4 separate regions of the Homo sapiens genome follow, and all the other regions are linked to region 3. The links come from fine-mapping of genetic effects on gene expression. A gene starts in region 3. Each other region holds a variant in brackets. All regions are shown on one strand. Distances are between the middles of the regions.

Evidence for each region.
Region 1: its variant is fine-mapped to the expression of SYNJ2BP in lung (TOPMed, PIP above 0.99). The same link has a PIP of 0.9 or more in testis and whole blood.
Region 2: its variant is fine-mapped to the expression of SYNJ2BP in thyroid (GTEx, PIP 0.96).
Region 4: its variant is fine-mapped to the expression of SYNJ2BP in tibial artery (GTEx, PIP above 0.99). The same link has a PIP of 0.9 or more in fibroblasts and gastroesophageal junction.

The regions. Positions count from the first base shown.
Region 1 is chr14:70,302,738-70,305,489 of GRCh38, reverse strand. The region is part of intron 4 of LOC101928046 (a long non-coding RNA gene); the gene reads right to left. Among named protein-coding and RNA genes, the nearest start is that of COX16, 56 kb to the left of the region's middle. The variant T/C (reference allele first, on the strand shown) is at 1,340.
Region 2 is chr14:70,365,925-70,368,676 of GRCh38, reverse strand. All of the region lies in intron 3 of SYNJ2BP-COX16 (SYNJ2BP-COX16 readthrough), which reads left to right. It overlaps SYNJ2BP (synaptojanin 2 binding protein), which reads left to right. Exons shown (of 4, transcript NM_018373.3): 4 at 1-2,178. Among named protein-coding and RNA genes, the nearest start is that of COX16, 7.6 kb to the right of the region's middle. The variant G/C (reference allele first, on the strand shown) is at 1,575.
Region 3 is chr14:70,415,596-70,418,095 of GRCh38, reverse strand. SYNJ2BP (synaptojanin 2 binding protein) reads left to right here and starts at 1,006. Exons shown (of 4, transcript NM_018373.3): 1 at 1,006-1,196. The coding sequence starts at 1,133. It overlaps SYNJ2BP-COX16 (SYNJ2BP-COX16 readthrough), which reads left to right and starts at 1,006. Exons shown (of 5, transcript NM_001202549.2): 1 at 1,006-1,196. The coding sequence starts at 1,133. LOC124903339 (a long non-coding RNA gene) reads right to left here and starts at 1,011. Exons shown (of 2, transcript XR_007064237.1): 1 at 908-1,011. RefSeq lists enhancers at 931-1,040, 20-1,219, 1,151-1,230.
Region 4 is chr14:70,306,850-70,309,601 of GRCh38, reverse strand. The region is part of intron 4 of LOC101928046 (a long non-coding RNA gene); the gene reads right to left. Among named protein-coding and RNA genes, the nearest start is that of COX16, 51 kb to the left of the region's middle. The variant T/C (reference allele first, on the strand shown) is at 1,522.

The DNA.
Region 1 (2,752 bases), 110 kb after region 3:
GCAAATCAAAACCACAATGAGATACCATCTCACACCAGTTAGAATGGTGATCATTAAAAAGTCAGGAAAACAACAGGTTCTGGTGAGGATGTGGAGAAATAGGAACACTTTTACACTGTTGGTGGGACTGTAAACTAGTTCAACCATTGTGGAAGACAGTGTGGCAATTCCTCAAGGATCTAGAACTAGAAATACTATTTGACCCAGCCATCCCATTACTGGGTATATACCCAAAGGATTATAAATCATGCTACTATAAAGACACATGCACACGTATGTTTATTGCGGCACTATTCACAATAGCAAATACTTGGAACCAACCCACATGTCCATCAGTGATAGACTGGGTTAAGAAAATGTGGCACATATACAACATGGAATACTATGAAGCCATAAAAAAGGATGAGTTCATGTCCTTTGTAGGGAGATAGATGAAGCTGGAAACCATCATTCTGAGCAAACTCTTGGAAGGACAGAAAACCAAACACTGCATGTTCTCACTCATAGGTGGGAACTGAACAATGAGAACACTTGGACACAGGGTGGGGAACACCACAAACCGGGGCCTGTTGTACAGTCAGGGGATGGGGGAAGGATAGCATTAAGAGAAATAATGTAAATGACGAGTTAATGGGTGCAGCACACCAACTTGGCACATGTATACATATGTAACAAACCTGAATGTTGTGCACATGTACCCTAGAACTTAAAGGATAATAATTTTAAAAAGGGCAAAAAAAAAAAGATTTAGCAAGACTTGGTGTCCTTTTTAGACCCAAGTGTCAAAGCCCTGTAACTTAATGTCACAAGTACTTTTAAATCACATACAGAAAGATACATGGATGTAAGAACCTCAATTAAAAAAAAAAATTAATCTCAGTTTTTTCCTAAGCAAAGCAAAACTTTAATAATAATGATATAGAAATTATTTTAATAAAATGTAAAATTTGTTAGGTCAGTTACCAAAAGGAAAAAGACCTTCTGCAATGTACATAATATTATTTTGTAAGAAAACATTTCCTTTACATCTTTAAGAAAGTATTGTTAGCATCAGGCTACAACAAACAGATCTTGAAGAAAAAAAAATATGAGCTGAAAATGAGTTGAAGGAGATTGTTATTATTTCATGCCTTTTAAAAGGGGAGAGAAAACCAGAAACAGTGAGATGCACTAAACATTAAACTTTGGGTTAAAAAATTAAAATCTCTTATAATTTATTAAGAGTAAATCAATCCCTTTAGGGAATTTTATTGTTCTAATCAATTCTTTAGTGTACAAGTGTTTTTTTTTTACATCAAGCCCATTCTCTAGAAAGACCATTATAATTTCCCTTTAATTA[T/C]AGATAACTTGATCATATAAATGTTTTTTTTAATAAAACCTTTTATTGTGACTTACACAGACCATTAATGATATGTTTGGACTTTCTGGTTTGTCCTGAACATTCCTCTTTCTTAAACAACCAGTCATTTTATTCTAGGTCTAAATTTACCGTACAAGATTCTGTAACTGCCCAAGGGGTTCGCTTTATCTGCTGCCTAGACAGAGTCAATTTATCAAGACAGGGCAATTGTAATAAAGAGTAATTAATGCAGAGCTGGCTGTGCAGGAGACCAGAATGTTATTATTACTCAAATCAGTCTCCCTGACAACTCTGGTATTTGTGTTTTTAAAATTAATTTGGTGGGTGGGGGATGGGGACAGTGAATTGGGAGTGCTGATTGGTTGGCTTGGGGATGAAATCATAGGGAGTCCAGGCTGTTCTCATCTGCTGAGTCAGTTCCTGGGTGGGAGCCACAGAACTGGTTGGCAGATCCAGGTGGGGCCATCTGGTTGTTAAAAATGCAAAAACCTGAAAAGACATCTCAAAAGGACGATCTTAGGTTCACAATAGTGACGTTACCTTCAAGAGTAATTGGGGAAGTTGTAAATCTAATGACCTGTGGAATAATGGCGGGTAATATTTAGAATTCCAGCCCCTCTCATCTTGACTTGGTGGCTGGTGGCCTTTCATTTGTTTTATAAGAACAGTTTAGCCTTTTGGGGAGGGCTATTATATAAACTATACACTAAATCCCTTCCCAAAGCTAGTTTGGCCTATGCCCAGGAATGAACAAGGACAGTTTAGAGGTTAGAAGCAAGATGGGGTCAGTTAGGTCTGATATCTTTCATTGTCATAATTTTCTCAGTTATGATTTTTACAAAATGGCTTCAATGCTTTCTCATGTAAAATTATTTCTTTTTAAGCTTTCTTACCAAAAAATGCCTCTTTATCTCATACCGTTCTTTACATTTCCCCTATTTCCTGGTTCCTTTAAACTTGTTTTATACATAACCTTTAAATAAGCTTTTAATTAGACGAAAATTGTTCACCTTTTTAAAAAGGACACTTTTTTTTAGAAAGAATGTTTTCCTACAATATATTTTTATCAGAAAATACCCAAATAATGAAATATCATTTAATTTAACTTTAGATTCTAAATTATGACATTTGTCTACAAGTATTTATCCCATTATATTTACCTAATTATTTTATTTTATTCATTTACCTAGATTATTTATGAAAACTACGATAGTCATCATTTAAAGTTATGAAACTCACCATTACAAAATTCTAACTGAGGCAGTGAAAAATATATGACCTAACTTACTCCATCTTGCTTCTAACCTCCAAGCTTGTCCTTATTCATTTCTGGACTTTGGGAGGAACTTATAGTTTAGCTTTGAAACAAAGATGGTAACAGTCCTTTCCCAA
Region 2 (2,752 bases), 50 kb after region 3:
GAGCCCAGCTTCCTGAGCTTCTGCACGAAGTAAGTGGAACATTCATTTCTTCCTGATTTGCTAAGGATTGATCAACCTCCAGCAAAATGTATGATTAGTGAGTGTTTCAGTTGGTGCATCAATTAAATGAGAACCAATCATAGAACATTGAAGCTAAAAAGGACCAGAGAGCTTCTAGGATGAATCTGTCTTAGAGATGAGAAAAATAAAGGCTCAGAGAGGGAAGCTAACTTAACTCTGATCAGACTTAGTTTGTTGCAGAAGTGACCTTTCTGTCTCATATTTATGTCTTGAATATATTCACTACATGAATACACAGACTACCCATTTTATCTTAGTCTACTTCTTTCTTCTCTCTTTGGGCCTGAATAAAGACCAGAACTGATAGACAGCTAAAGGATATTGCAAGCATCATTATTGGAATTGGGAGATTCCACAGAACAATCTGAGAATGATCTCATATCAAATCCAATCAGATGAGTTATTCTGAGACTAATTCCAATAGTTCTAGAGACTTTTTTTTTTATGGTGGACATTGTTTTTATTGTGTAAATAAGCAATTTTTAAAGTATATTTAAAGAAATGAAACATAAGGAAGTGTATAGGCTGTCAGGTATGTGGGGAAGTGAAGTTCATGTAGTTTTCATGTGGAGCCCATACAGATTTTATTATAGTCAATTTTAGTGAAATTTATCGTTGGTCAGATGAAGGTTTTTTTCCTTCATTCAGCAAATAACTAATGACTGCCTACTATGTGCTAGGTGCCGAAGATAGAGAGATAAATAACACTTAGTCACTCTAAGCTGAAATTGCTCAGCATATGAAAGTGGAGGAATATTTGTAGGTGATTTTGATGTTAAAGTATTTTTTTAACATCACCTGGTAGTAGAAGATTGAGTTATGAAGCTGTCTACCTCTCACCTGTAATAGTTTTAGAGTTGGTTGCTATTTTGGTGTAAGTCTTTTTTGCTGTTCCTCTTTTAACTGCAAATCTTTTTGAGACCAGCACTCACATCCAAAAGGGCAATTGTGATAAAAAAGAAGACAGTATTTTAAGGATTCTGATCAGAACCAGATTCTTTTCTTTTCTTTTTTTTTTTTTTTTTTTTTTTTTTGAGACGGAGTCTTGCTCTGTCGCCTAGGCTGGAGTGCAGTGGCACGATCTCAGCTCACTGCAATCTCTGCCGCCCGGGTTCAAGCGATTCTCCTGCCTCAGCCTCCCCAGTAGTTGGGATTACAGGTGTGTGCCACAACGCCTGGCTAATTTTTGTATTTTTAGTAGACACGGGGTTTCAGCATCTTGGCCAGGCTGGTCTTGAATTCCTGACCTCGTGATCCACCCATCTCGGCCTCCCAAAGTGCAGAACCAGATTCTTAACTGCCACAGACTCTTGTATTATGTAATTTATATACAGAACACAAAGCACTTGATTTGCTTAACTGATGTACTTGATGATACTATAAAACCTATATTATGAGAAAGCATTGCTCCTTCAAAGGAATCAAGTGATAGCAAACACTCGGTCCTGTTTCCAGGTTTTCCTCACTGTTCATTTTGCCTTTGTTCTTGCAGG[G/C]GGAGAATGAAAGGGGCGAGAGCTAAAGTGTGTTGTCAATGCAAGTCAATCCTTAACCAACAATAATTTACAAAAGAACTTTATATTTGCTGTAATCATTAAATTTAGTTACTAATCCCAGGAAAAGGGTTAGTCCTTCCTCCTAGTTTGTAGATTTGCAAATGGAGATGAATAATTGAATCCTATTTTAATCTTTTATCTGCAGTAATCTGGGCTTCTTATTACCGGATATATTTGCATTTTACCTCCAGGCCATGTTAGTTCTTAGAAGATTATTTTCCTCATGAACCCTGTTTTGTTTTGCTTCCTTTCTGCTTCAATTCTAATGTCACATTGCATACCTGGATGTAAACAGCAGTCAGTTTCTCAGATCAAATAGAGCCCTGTAGCAACTTGGAAGACACAGAAGACACACGGACATAAAACTGTATTTATTATCCAGGGAATGTCACTACGGATTAATTATGTTAATGAGGCCATCAAAATCTATGGTAATCTTTCAGGCTTTGTTGTTTGATACCAGATACAGCAAATGAGATAATAATGTGTCTAATTGTGCCTAGCCAGTATTGGTATTTAATAAAACTTTGTCATTGAATCTTTACAATCTTTTTTCACCTTATTTTGAAGACCGTTGATTAAATATCTCATTTTTTTTTCTTCCAGATGAGGGTTTTTTCCTTCATTCAGCAAATATCTGATAAGTGCTTACTATGTACTAGATATTCTTAGGGTAACACCTCTGACAGAATTGTGGAAAGAGGAAGAAATCTAAATGATCAGTTTGAGGCTTTGACATAGGAGATAAGGAACAGGACATTGATATCCTGTTAACAATTATGGAGCTCTTATCAATATTCCAGCTTTTGTTCTAAGGCCTTTGCATGTATAATATTTATTTAAGCCTCAAAACAACTCTTAAGATAACTGCTGTTGTTATCTTCATTTTATAGATAAAAGGCATAGAGAGGTTAAGTAACTTGCCCAAGTTATACAGCTACTAAGTGCCAAAGCTGTGATTTAAACCCAGGCAATCTGGCTTCAAAACCTGCATTCATAACTATAACACCTTACTGTCTCTACTTCCCATGGTACCAGGCACTGCATTAGGCTGCCCTTTTGTATAACTTAATGCCAAATTCTCATATCTGTGCAAGGCAGTGTCAATATTCCATTTT
Region 3 (2,500 bases):
TCCTCTAAGATCCCCACCAATCCCTGTGGTCTAACTCCAGGTTGCTTCACAAGGTTGTCACCTTCCTGGCTCTTTAGGCTTTTGTGTTTTTGACCCCTGAAGTTTCATTCAAGTTCAGTTTGGAATGTCTCATTCCAAAAGTCAGGAAGACTGGCCTAAAGTTATACCTAAGCCATGCGTTAACCTTATTGTAAGAGTTAAAACATTAAAAAGATTGAATTTTCCCAGTTGCCAAAAGAATGAGACATTCCCCCACCCCCCTTTCTTAAAACATTTTCTTGAGCAAATTGTAATTATAATCCGTGTGTAGTGTGTGTGTGTGTGTGTATCTTTTTAAAAGCTAAATAAGCCTCTTGTCAGATAAAACCCAGGAATTGTTTTCGTCAGGTCCCGGGAGCCAACTCCTTGAAATTTAAGTATCAAGGTAGACAGTGCCCCTATGTTCCAGGCTCGCGGGAGTTACCCGAAGCGCCTTGCTCCAAGCCGTAAGTACCTGTTTGTCACAGAGATAACGTTTTATTTTTCCTTTGGATAAAGGCAATTAACCAACACAGGCGGCCACTCCAACGGTGAACTACCAAAAATTGAATACCAAACCATGTTAACTCGTCTTACATGAGAAGATGCGTGTGCTTTGGCTACATAAAATGTGAGATTTTTGTCTCTCTTTGCAATCTCATTAGTGGATTGCCTGTAACACCCATTCCGGTCTGGTTCGATGCTTACAGAATAATACACCTTTTTTTTCTTTTCTACATTTGTGGAGATTTTCTAGGATGGCAGGAGATTTTTTTAAAATTTTTTTTCTCGACAATATCAATTTATTTAGGTCCCTTACTTTTACTAGCCACCCCCTTCCCACTTGCTTCCAATGGCAAATTAGAATGGTAACTTGCCCCTTGCTCACCTCATGCTTGGCTTTGGGAACCGGTGAGAAACTGCAATCCATTGGCGGTAGGAACCACGATTCCCAGCATTCCCAGTGCTCCGAGTCCTTCGGGCTTCCTTTTCCGGGTCTCGAGGCTGCTGAAACCGAAACCGCTGTGCTGTGGGCGCAGCGCCGAGATTGATTCACCTTCACCTGTGCTGCACTCCAGCTGACCCAAGTAGGAAGCCAGACGAGCTGTAAAACATGAACGGAAGAGTGGATTATTTGGTCACTGAGGAAGAGATCAATCTTACCAGAGGGCCCTCAGGTATGTGCGGAAAGGGTCATATCTGACAGTAGGGGATTAGAGGGTGTAATTGCAGACACCTCTGCTGCTGAGCCGGATTCACCTGGCCTCGGGGCGGGCAGGCCACAACCTAGAGGTTTCGTGCAACGCTTCGGGGTGCTTAGAGAAAATATATTGAAATCCATCATTAGCCAGATACGGGTCTGAGGAATCCACCTCAAAATCCAGTTGGATGAACACAAATATATATAGTCAAGAAGGGGTTCTTTGTGCAAATCGTGCTAGAAAAGCCTTTTTAAAAGCCTGCTTTTTTAGCCTGCTTATCGTGGATACCACATCCTTCTTTCCGTTGCCTGTTCTATCCCTCCCCCTATGAGGGACCGTTTAGTAAAATGGGAGCATAAACGGTGTGGACTCTGAATGCATAGCCGTTTTCCTGCAGCTAGGATCCCTCCCTCGCTCCTTTGATTTCTGGGAACTTCATTTACAATGTCAACTAGAATGTTAAAGCAGGAAGAGCCCTTAGAAATCTTTTATTACACAGGTTCCCAAACTTGGTTCCGCCACAAAATTACCCAGGGCTTTAAAAAAAAAAAAAAAAAAGAAAATAAAAAGTTAAATCTTATCTCCCATCTGCAGGGATTTGGATTTAATACAGATTTATTTTATTTATTTATTTATTTTTTATGAACACCTCATGTGATTTTGAGCAGCCAAACTGCTATCCTCTTCCCCCACTGTGGCTCTTCATTAAACCGGGCTCTTGACATTACTACATTCTGCCTGCTTTCGACTTTGTTTACTTTCCTTTACAACTATTTAGTTGATCAATTAAGAGCTCTTTAGCTTTGGAATTACAGTATCTGGGTCTAAATCTTGTATCTAACCTCTTACTGATTCTTGATACTTATTGGCTAACTTAACTGATGTAAGCCTTAGTTTATCATCTCTAAAATGGGGATGGTTATAAATATACTTCATAGTGTTGTGAGAATGAAATGAGTTAATCCATGTAAAATGTTTACAACATTGCTTGACCTATGGTAAACAGTATGTGTTTCCTACTATTGTTACTGTTAATGGATAAATAGCTAAACTGACACAGTAAATCCTACTAATACTGTATTCCAAGAGTCTCTAATAAATCATCAAGTACTCTGAGCTCCATCTCTGAAATGTTCCTGAAATTCTTTCACTCCTGTTTCCCTTGCCACTACCTAGGACAGTCCATCACCTTTTCTCATCTGCAGTTCTGCAGTAGCTTAATCATGGATAGATTATTCTTTATAAAATATAACTTTCAGAATTATCCATACTTTGTGTCT
Region 4 (2,752 bases), 110 kb after region 3:
ACCTAGCAAGGCAGGCCAACATTGAAATTCAGGAAATACAGAGAATGCCATAAAGATACTCCTTGAGAAGAGCAACCCCAAGACACATAATTGTCAGATTCACCAAGGTTGAAATGACAGAAAAAATGTTAAGGGCAGCCAGAGAGAAAGGTCGCGTTACCCACAAAGGGAAGCCCATCAGACTAACAGCGGACCTCTCAGCAGAAACTCTATAAGCCAGAAGAGAGTGGGGGCCAATATTCAACATTCTTAAAGAAAATAATTTTCAACCCAGAATTTCATATCCAGCCAAACTTCATAGGTGAAGGAGAAATAAAATCCTTTACAGACAAGCAAATGCTGAGGGATTTTGTCACCACCAGCCTTACAAGAGCTCCTGAAGGAAACACTAAACATGAAAAAGAACTGGTACCAGCCACTGGAAAAACATGCCAAATTGTAAAGACCATTGATGCTAGGAAGAAACTGCATCAACTAACAAGCAAAATAACCAGCTAACATCATAATGACAGGATCAAATTCACATATAACAATATTAACCTTAAATGTAAATGGGCTAAATGCCCCCAATTAAAAGACACAGACTGGCAAATTCGATAATGAGTCAAGACGCATCATCAGTGTGCTGTATTCAGGAGACCCATCTCATGTGCAGAGACACACATAGGCTCAAAATAAAGGGATGGAGGAAGATCTACCAAGCAAATGGAAAGCAAAAGAAAAGCAGGGGTTGCAATCCCAGTCTCTGATAAAACAGACTTTAAGCCAACAAAGATCAAAAGAGACAAAGAAGGCCATTACATAATGGTAAAGGGATCAATTCAACAAGAAGAGATAACTATCCTAAATATATATGCACCCAATACAGGAGCACCCAGCTTCATAAAGCAAGTCCTTAGAGACCTACAAAGAGACTTAGACTTCCACACAATAATAATAGGAGACTTTAACACTCCACTGTCAACATTAGACAGATCAATGAGACAGAAAGTTAACAAGGATATCCAGGACTTTAACTCAGCTCTGCACCAAGCAGACCTAATAGACTTCTACAGAACTCTCCACCCCAAATCAACAGAATATACATTCTTCTCCGCACCACATGGCACTTATTCCAAAATTGACCACATAGTTGGAAGTAAAGCGCTCCTCAACAAATGTAAAAGAACAGAAATTATAACAAACTGTCTCTCAGACCACAGTGCAATCAAATTAGAACTCAGGATTAAGAAACTCACTCAAAACCACTCAACTACATGGAAACTGAACAACCTGCTCCTGAATGGCTATTGAGTAAATAACTAAGTGAAAGCAGAAATAAAGATGTTCTTTGAAACCAATGAGAACAAAGACATGACGTACCAGAATCTCTGGGACACATTTAAAGTAGTGTGTAGAGGGAAATTTATAGCACTAAATGCCCACAAGAGAAAGCAGGAAAGATCTAAAATTGACACCCTAAAATCACAATGAAAAGAACTAGAGAAGCAAGAGCAAACACATTCAAAAGCTAGCAGAAGG[T/C]AAGAAATAACTAAGATCAGAGCCAGAACTGAAGGAGATAGAGACATGAAAAACCCTTCAAAAAATCAATGAATCTAGGAGCTGGTTTTTTGAAAAGATCAACAAAATTGATAGACCACTAGCAAGACTAATACAGAAGAAAAGAGAGAAGAATCAAATAGACTCAATAAAAAATGATAAAGGGGATGTCACCACCAATCCCACAGAAATACAAATGACCATCAGAGAATACTATAAACACCTCTGTGCAAATAAACTAGAAAATCTACCTTCCTGGACACATACACCCTCCCAAGACTAAACCAGGAAGAAGTTGAATCCCTGAATAGATCAATAACAGGCTCTGAAATTGAGGTAATAATTAATAGCCTACCAACCAAAAAAAGTCCAGGACCAGATGGATTCACAGCCGAATTCTACCAGAGGTACAAAGAGGAGCTGGTACCATTCCTTCTGAAACTATTCCAATCAATAGAAAACAAGGGAATTCTCCCTAACTCATTTTATGAGGCCAGCATCATCCTGATACCATAGCCTGGCAGAGACACAACAAAAAAAGAGAATTATAGACCAATATCCCTGATGAACATTGAAGTGAAAATGCTCAATAAAATACTAGCAAACTGAATCCAGCAGCACATCAAAAAGCTTATCCATCATGATCAAGTTGGCTTCATCCCTGGGATGCATGGCTGGTTTAACATATGCAAATCAATAAACGTAATCCATTATATAAACAGAACCAAAGACAAAAACCACATGATTGGGGCTGGGAGCGGTGGCTCACACCTGTAGTCCCAACACTTTGGGAGGCCAAGGTGGGCAGATCACGAGGTCAGGAGATTGAGACCATCCTGGCTAACATGGTGAAACCCCATCTCTACTAAAAATACAAAAAATTAGCTGGGTGTGGTGGTGGGTGCCTGTAGTTGCAGCTACTCGGGAGGCTGAGGCAGGAGAATGGCGTGAACCTGGGAGGCGGAGCTTGCAGTGAGCCAAGATCGCGCCACTGCACTCCAGCCTGGGCAACAAAGCGAGACTCTGTCTCAAAAACAAAAACCAAAAAAAAGCCCCACATGATTATCTCAATAGATGCAGAAAAAGCATTCAACAGCCCTTCATGCTAAAAACTCTCAATAAACTAGGTATTGATGGGACGTATCTCAAAATAATAAGAGCTATTTATGACAAACCCACAGCCAATATCATACTGAATGGGCAAAAACTGGAA